2 linked regions of the Homo sapiens genome follow. The protein of the gene in region 1 interacts with the protein of each later gene in a pairwise test. Each region holds a gene or a part of one and is shown in the gene's direction. Other genes may lie near its edges.

Region 1 (3,979 bases):
CCATTTCTACAAAGCCTCATGTGGTAGCTGGTGTCTGTAGTCCTAGCTACTCAGAAGGCTAAGGTGGGAGGACCTCTGAGCCCAGGAATTCAAGGCTGCAGTGAGCTATGATTTCACCACTGCACTTCAGGCTGAGTGACAGAGTGAGACCCCATCTCAAAAACAAAACAAAACAAAAAATGTTAATAGTAGCATCTAGGTGGTAAGAATATGTTCACTGTACAATTATTCTCATTTCACCCTATGTTTGCACTTTTTAATAATAAAATGTAAAAAAAACAAAACAAACAAACAAAAAACCCTGAATATTATTCAGCATGGGGAACATGGAGGATGGGGAGAAGGGTGGGGGAGGAAGTAGAAGGTTCTTGAATTTGGAAGGGGAAACGCAAATTAATATGGACCCACCCAGGCACCACATCTCCTCCTCACCCCTTGCCTTACAGGCGCTCCCCAGTCTTCACCCTCCTCAAGGAGTGGGTGTGCAATCCTCCAGCACCCATCTCCTTCTCCATCACAGTGCCACTAAGAAGCCTTCACCCAGGTCTCTCCAGAGAGCCTCAGGCCGCTGCCTTTACTTAGTTCTGTGTTCAATGCCAGAATGCTGCCTCCTACAGGAAGTCCACCTGTATTGCCCACACCTCCTTTCCTGTCACCAACTTGTCACCAACTTTCTGTCCTTGATCTATCCACAGGGCTCATGTAGATCTAGTATGGCTGCCTTTAACTCTCATGTTTGTTAATCAGACAGCCAAGCAGCCTGCTGCATAGAGCTGCAGAACACCAAGTGGGTCACCAGAACACCAAATATGCCAGAGCTCCCAGTCTGAACTGGAGCAGGGTACATGTGTCCACAGACATATGCCAAGATCAAGAGGTCTCAACAGATGCAGTGTAAGAGGTAATAGAGAAGAGTTAATCAAGGAAGACACCTGAAGGTGGTGGGTGTTTGCTGACTAGTGGCAGGATCAGTGAAATGACTGGAGCTGAGGCAGATTATGGCCCTAGCTACAGGCCCAGAAGTTTGAAAAGAAAGATGTTGTAACCCTAACCCTGGAGCCGAACTTCCTCTCCTAACAATGCTGGGGAGGAACCCAGGCTGGGGGAGAAGTTAAAGCCAGAGGAGGGGCAGGAATGTCTGAGGTGGCAACACTTCTCTTCAGCCAGACAGCACTGGCCAGTTTGGAGTCTGTCCATCCTGCAGGCCACAAGCTCTGGGTAAGCTGGGAATGGGCAGGGACCTTGGTGGAAGGATGGTCACACCCCAGAGTGGGGTGAAGCTAAGATGAGGGGAGGGAGAGTATGGGTTTGAGTTTCCCTGGGCCGTCGAGGAATCCTCTGAGTCTCTGCTCCCCAAAGAAATTAAAGACAATTCATTTCTGTGCCCACGGCCCTTATGGCCTCCACCTGCACTTCTGCTCCCCACCCCCCAGAATTCCTCTTAAACCCAGAAGGGTCCCAGTTTCCAGACCCTAGTCAGTATATCTGGCTCTGGGGTGAAGAGAACGGCCCCCTCTTCACCCTCAAACAGGAACCAGTGGTTGGAGGGGAGGAAGTGCCTGAGGGGAAGTTATGGGGCCCCAGATACTCCTCCATGCCCCACTTCAGCCCTAGCAGCATCTGCCTGTGGGAAGCAGCTCTCCACACCAGCCAAGGGGGCCCCCACACTCCCGCGCTGCTCTGCGGCTCAGGGAGCAGCCCACCTGCTGGGTGTGCTGATATCACCCTCCCTTCTTCCCCCCAGTGCCCACACCCACCCAGGCCCAGGCTCCTTCCCCTCCATCATCCCCTTACCAGCACCTAGAACCATCCAGGGCTGAAAAGTCCCCTCCAAACCACGTGGTCAGCCCAGGGCAGAGGAAAGGGCTGGGCTCTGGAGTTGGGCAGAGCTGGCCTTAAACCCCAGCTCCACCTTTCTGGGATGGGTGACCTAGTAAAGTCCAGGCTTGAATCTCGGGTCTTTACTTGGGCAACGGGCACCATGATACCCTATGTTCTGGGGATTAGCAGTGAGGAATGGAAAGTGCCCAGCTCAGGGTTGGCACATAAGGGAGGCTCCCCAGCCTGGGAACGATTATAACAGAGGGCCCCTCACTTCACAGATGAGGAACTTGAGGCAAGTCACCAGCCCCTGATCATTTCGCCTAAAAGAGCAAGGACTAGAGTTCCTGACCTCCAGGCCAGTCCCTGATCCCTGACCTAATGTTATCGCGGAATGATGGTAAGTAAAGTGTCTCTTGCATCTGCATAGAGAGAGTCCTGGGAGCTTAGGAAGTGATGGGGAACAGTGATGTATGCAGCTCATGACTAGGTGGACAGGCCTCTGGGGACAGCTGGTACAGGAGGGAAAGGGACCTCACGGGAGGCCCAGAAACCTGGTAAGAGGTGAGGTATTAAGGTCTGGGATGGAGAAGCTCTGAGGGTATATTTTTCTGCCTCTAAAACTGTTGGAGAGGGAATCTGAGAAAGCTGCAACCAACCAGGAGGCTGGGGTACGCTGGAGAAGGAATGGGCTTCCTAACCTTGAGCCCTCTTCCCTGAAGATATATGTATCTACGGGGGCCTGGGGCTGGGCGGGCTCCTGCTTCTGGCAGTGGTCCTTCTGTCCGCCTGCCTGTGTTGGCTGCATCGAAGAGGTGAGCGCTGCACTCCCTCCCTCCCCCTGCAGCAGTGCCCCCTGTGCCCCCACCCCCACACGCTTTCCCACTGCTTTCCCAGAACACTGCCTGGCCCTGGAGCCACTGGGAAGCCAACAGGGGAGTCCACGCCTGCTGGTGGGGGGAGCCCGGGAGGGCCCGGGAGAAGCACAAAGGGTGGGCTGTGTTGAGCTTCTTCTTTTCTTCCAGTAAAGAGGCTGGAGAGGAGCTGGGTGAGTCTGGGGACAGGGAAGGGGGAGGGCAAGAGAGATCCTGAGTGGGTGAGTGGGGAGAAGCATGGCTGAGCGCTGAGAGGAGGGTTGGGGACGGGAGACAAGGAGAGAGAAAGTAGGAGCATGAGAGAGGCAGAGAAAATCGAGGCAAAAGAGAAAGAGAAAATGAGACAGAAACCAAGAGAAAAAGTGAGACAGAGGATAGGAGAGACAGGGAGAAAATGAGAGTGAGAGAGACACAAAGAGAAGAGCAATGAAAGAGAGAGAGAGAGAGAGGCTCCAGAACCAGGCACAGTGGCTCACGTCTGTCATTCCAGCTATCGCAAGGCTGAGGCAGGAAGATAGCTTGAGCTCAGGGGTTGAAGACAATCCTGGACAACATAGTGGGACTCTGTCTCCAAAGAAAAAAGAGAGAGAGAGAGAGAGAGAGAGAGAGGGAGAGAGAGAGAGAGAGAGGGAGAGAAGTAAGAAAGGCTGGAGGTGGGAGCAGAACTCACAGGGAAGGATCTGACGGCATCGCCTCCCATCAGCACCTTCTGTCCTGGTCCCAGGCCCAGGGCTCCTCAGAGCAGGAACTCCACTATGCATCTCTGCAGAGGCTGCCAGTGCCCAGCAGTGAGGGACCTGACCTCAGGGGCAGAGACAAGAGAGGCACCAAGGAGGATCCAAGAGCTGACTATGCCTGCATTGCTGAGAACAAACCCACCTGAGCACCCCAGACACCTTCCTCAACCCAGGCGGGTGGACAGGGTCCCCCTGTGGTCCAGCCAGTAAAAACCATGGTCCCCCCACTTCTGTGTCTCAGTCCTCTCAGTCCATCTCGAGCCTCCGTTCAAATTGATCATCATCAAAACTTATGTGGCTTTTTGACCTTTGAATAGGGAATTTTTTAAATTTTTTAAAAATTAAAATAAAAAAAACACATGGCTCACCCTTCCACCCACTCTGGGGTCAAATAGTAATTTATTGGGTGAATGACAGTGTTCAGGGACCCAAGCTCCCCTAACAGCCAGAAGAGGGTATGTGTGGGCCTGGCAGGAAAGGGCAGTTGCCAAGGAGGAGTCATATCTGATCCTTCCCATTTCTCAGGACAATCAGGCTCAGCCTCCT
Region 2 (3,500 bases), on another chromosome or scaffold:
TGGTAGGTTTATTGTGTTTTATGTTTTCTACAATAGATTTTTACTTTATATTCAGAAAAATGTGTCTTTTTTTATATTTTAGGTAAGATCTATATTTTCTACATAATGATAGCTTCTAAGAATTATATTTATCTAATGCTTAGATTTTTGGACTAATTTTTAATATAAAAAATGATGGTTATCTTATAATAATAGAAGTGTATTTGATATATTTTCATCTGTATTTACAGCTCTGAAAGAGAATCTTTACTATGAAGCTGGCAAAATGCTTGCCATTTCTTTAGTTCACGGTGGTCCTTCACCTGGTTTCTTTTCTAAAACCTTGTTTAACTGCCTTGTTTATGGACCAGAAAATACCCAGCCAATTTTAGATGATGTTTCAGACTTTGATGTGGCACAGATTATAATCAGGGTAAGCAATGTATCTGTTTATTAAAATGCACACTACATTCTAGGTATCTTTTAATGTAAATGACTGATCTGCAATAAAATAATAGTATTATCTATGAAGGAGTTAGGGATTGTAAACATATATTTCTGTTTACCAGTGGAGTTCTGAACCAGTTAAAAGATAGTTTTAAAAGTCAGATGGCTGGAGATTAAAGTGCCACGTTTAATGTTGGTAAAACCAGTTGGATAATGTGATTTTGGTCTGTGTTCACCATGGCTTGTGAATACTCCTCAGAAATACATGGATTTGCCTGCCTTGCTAGAGACAACGTGAGGCAGATTCCCTATTGCAAGCTAGAAAGCAGATGAAAGTGCACTTTGATGGAGGCCGATGGGTCTGAAGAGAGGAAGGATTTGGCTTACCAGTTAGAATACTTTTCCTTCCTTCTATAGGGAGGTATGAATGATAGATGGAGAGAAAGACTAGGCTGAATTTCTTCCAAAGGGAAACAAGTGGTAGGGATCGGGGAGGACTTAATGCGTCCGCCTAAAAATAGTTCATTTATTCAGCACTTATAATGGGACCTGTACTAAACATGTCACATGTGCAAACACTCATTTATCATAATGCCATATAAGTGTCATTGCCAACATGTTACTGCTTTAAAAACTGAGACAATGCAAGCCATTTAACTTTTCTTCCTTAACCTCCCTCCTACTTAAGCATATTCTATCCATTGTCTCAATTAACAGGCAGTGTTGTTTAATGATTAAAAGCATAGGCCTTAGCCAGGCGTGGTGGCATGTGCCTGTAATCCCAGCTACTCTGGAGGCTGAGTCACAAGAATAATTTGAATCCGGCAGATGGAGGTTACAGTGAGCTGAGCTCACACCACTGCACTCCAACCTGGGCAACAGAGGGAGACACTGTCTCAAAAAAAAAGCACAGGCTTGGAAGTCAGATTTTACTTTGAATGCCAACTCTTATAACTACTATATGTTGTGTCACTTTGGGCATATTAATCTTACTAAACCTCAGTTTCTAAATCACACAGTAAGCACTATTGAAGTGTGAGTTGCTACAGTGTATTACAACAATTCTGTTTATTTGCCCTAAGACTGCTTATCCTAACATCATGTTTTAAATTGACCCTTTAATTCTTCGTTTTTCTTTTTGTGCCCTCTTTACTAAAAAAAAAGTATATTTAAGCTTCATTGTCTCTACTTCGTATTTCCTATTTATTTCTTGTAATCAGGCTTCTGTCCCTACCACCAGTCTCAAGTTAGCTAGTTCATAGTTTATATCCAGGGAGCTAAATATCCATGTCCAAAGGCCTTTTCTAATTTTTCATCTGCTGTGACTTCTGCAATTACCACTTAGAATTTCTCTGCAATATTTTATTTAATATTGTACTTCCTCCTACTTCTGATGATTCTCTCTTCTTTAATGCTTCTTACTTCTTCTTACCCCTGAAACTTAGCATTTTTCAGTGTTGTCTTAACAGTCATCATTCTTTATTATTTGGAGAGCTTCTTCTCTCCTGTAATCTTTCTGAATGATTTACAGACCTGTATTTTTGAGCCCCCGGACTTTTATATACAGATAAGACCTGGGTCTTGCTAGCACATTGAGTCTAACATGTTTAAGATAAAAATAGTATTTTTCCCAGAATTTTTTGTTTGATTGTTTTTTGTGGGGCTTTTTTGTGTTTTTACCTGTTTGCCTTTTCTTTCCAAGAGACTTCTTACTTCCAAGCTGTCTTGGAGAGTCATTTTCATACTCCTCCATTTTCCAGTTATATGTCAAGTCACCTGCCTCTAAGACTGACTTATTGTCAACCTTTCCTTCCTGTTTCTAGTGTGCCTATTTTACCAAACTCAAATTTTCCCTAGGCTTAGACAATTAGAATGTTGTTCTAATATTCTTATTTGGGATGATTCTTCCAAAAGTACAGTTTTGACCATATTGCTTTCTTCCTCAGGAATCCCCCAGTGGCTTCTCATTGCCTGTTGAACGAAGTTGAAGCTCTTCATTAGGGCATTTAAGACCTTCACCTCTCTTCATGGCTTTATCTACTCCAGTTTCTGTACTTTTTATCCAGTGTTTGTTCATTTATTTAAGAAATACTATGTATTCTGTACTGTTTTGTTACTAAAGATAGAGTAGTGAAGCAAAGTATCTGCCTTCTTGGAATTTACATTAAGAGAGAACACAGAAGATAAACAACAAATGTAATATGCCATCACGTAGTAAAATGTATTATAATGCTAAATAAAACAGAATATGGCCGGGCGCAGTGGGTCACGCCTGTAATCCCAACACTTTGGGAGAACAGGTGGGTGGATCACCGGGGTCAGCAGTTCGAGACCAGCCTGGCCAACATGGTGAAACCCCATCTTTACTAAAAATACAAAAAAATTAGCCAGGTGTGGTGGCGCGCGCCTATAGTCCCAGCTGCTTGAAAGGCTCGCTTGAGCCCGGGAGGCAGAGGTGGCAGTGAGCCGGGATCATGCCACTGCACTCCAGCATGGGCAACAGAGTGAGACTCCATCCCAAATAAATAAATGTATACATAAATACATACATGCATACATACAACAGAATAAAAGGAGATGGATAAGGGTTGGAGTATATACAAGTTAGGTTTTAGGCTAAACTTCTGTATCTCATAGACCCAGAAAGACAGTGGCTCAAACAAGGCAGATGTTTACTGTTCTGTAAAATCCATTGTCTAGATTTTAGGGTAAGAGTTGGCAAAAAATGGCCTGTAAGTCACGTTCTGGCTTGTTGCCTGTTTGGTAAATAGTTACATTGGAATGCAGCCATGCCCATTTGCTACTGATCTGACTGCTTTCACGCTACAGTGGCAGAGTTGAGTAGCTGCAACAGATACCATATAGTTTGAAAAGCATAAAATGCTATCTGGCCCTTTATACAGATGGCCCTCTGTTTTCGAGATAGAGTTGTGATTTACAAAACCGTCTAAGGACTTGAGTTCCTTCCTCTCATTATCGTGTAACACTTAGCATTATTGTTTGCATCCACATGGTTGAAGCTTGCTCTTAAAGGAGAAAAGTGGAAGTTGAGAGCAGGGAAGTTTGACATGTTG

What was found. The genes of interacting proteins can lie anywhere in the genome.
Region 2: the proteins of LST1 (region 1) and G2E3 interact in a two-hybrid assay, tested with the Homo sapiens proteins (one large-scale study listed by IntAct).

What each region holds. Positions count from the first base shown.
Region 1 is NC_000006.12:31,585,098-31,589,076, forward strand, and holds LST1 (leukocyte-specific transcript 1 protein), read left to right. Parts: upstream 1-1,179; 5' UTR 1,180-1,218; intron 1,219-1,601; exon of another isoform or gene 1,602-1,710; intron 1,711-2,102; 5' UTR 2,103-2,202; coding exon 2,203-2,221; intron 2,222-2,543; coding exon 2,544-2,636; intron 2,637-2,846; coding exon 2,847-2,869; intron 2,870-3,399; coding exon of another isoform or gene 3,400-3,420; coding exon 3,421-3,579; 3' UTR 3,580-3,812; downstream 3,813-3,979. Other genes in the region: NCR3 (natural cytotoxicity triggering receptor 3 isoform a precursor), read right to left, coding at 3,970-3,979. UniProt on the Homo sapiens protein: Possible role in modulating immune responses. Induces morphological changes including production of filopodia and microspikes when overexpressed in a variety of cell types and may be involved in dendritic cell maturation.
Region 2 is NC_000014.9:30,607,658-30,611,157, forward strand, and holds part of G2E3 (G2/M phase-specific E3 ubiquitin-protein ligase), read left to right. Parts: intron 1-230; coding exon 231-412; intron 413-3,500. UniProt on the Homo sapiens protein: E3 ubiquitin-protein ligase which accepts ubiquitin from an E2 ubiquitin-conjugating enzyme in the form of a thioester and then directly transfers the ubiquitin to targeted substrates. Essential in early embryonic development to prevent apoptotic death.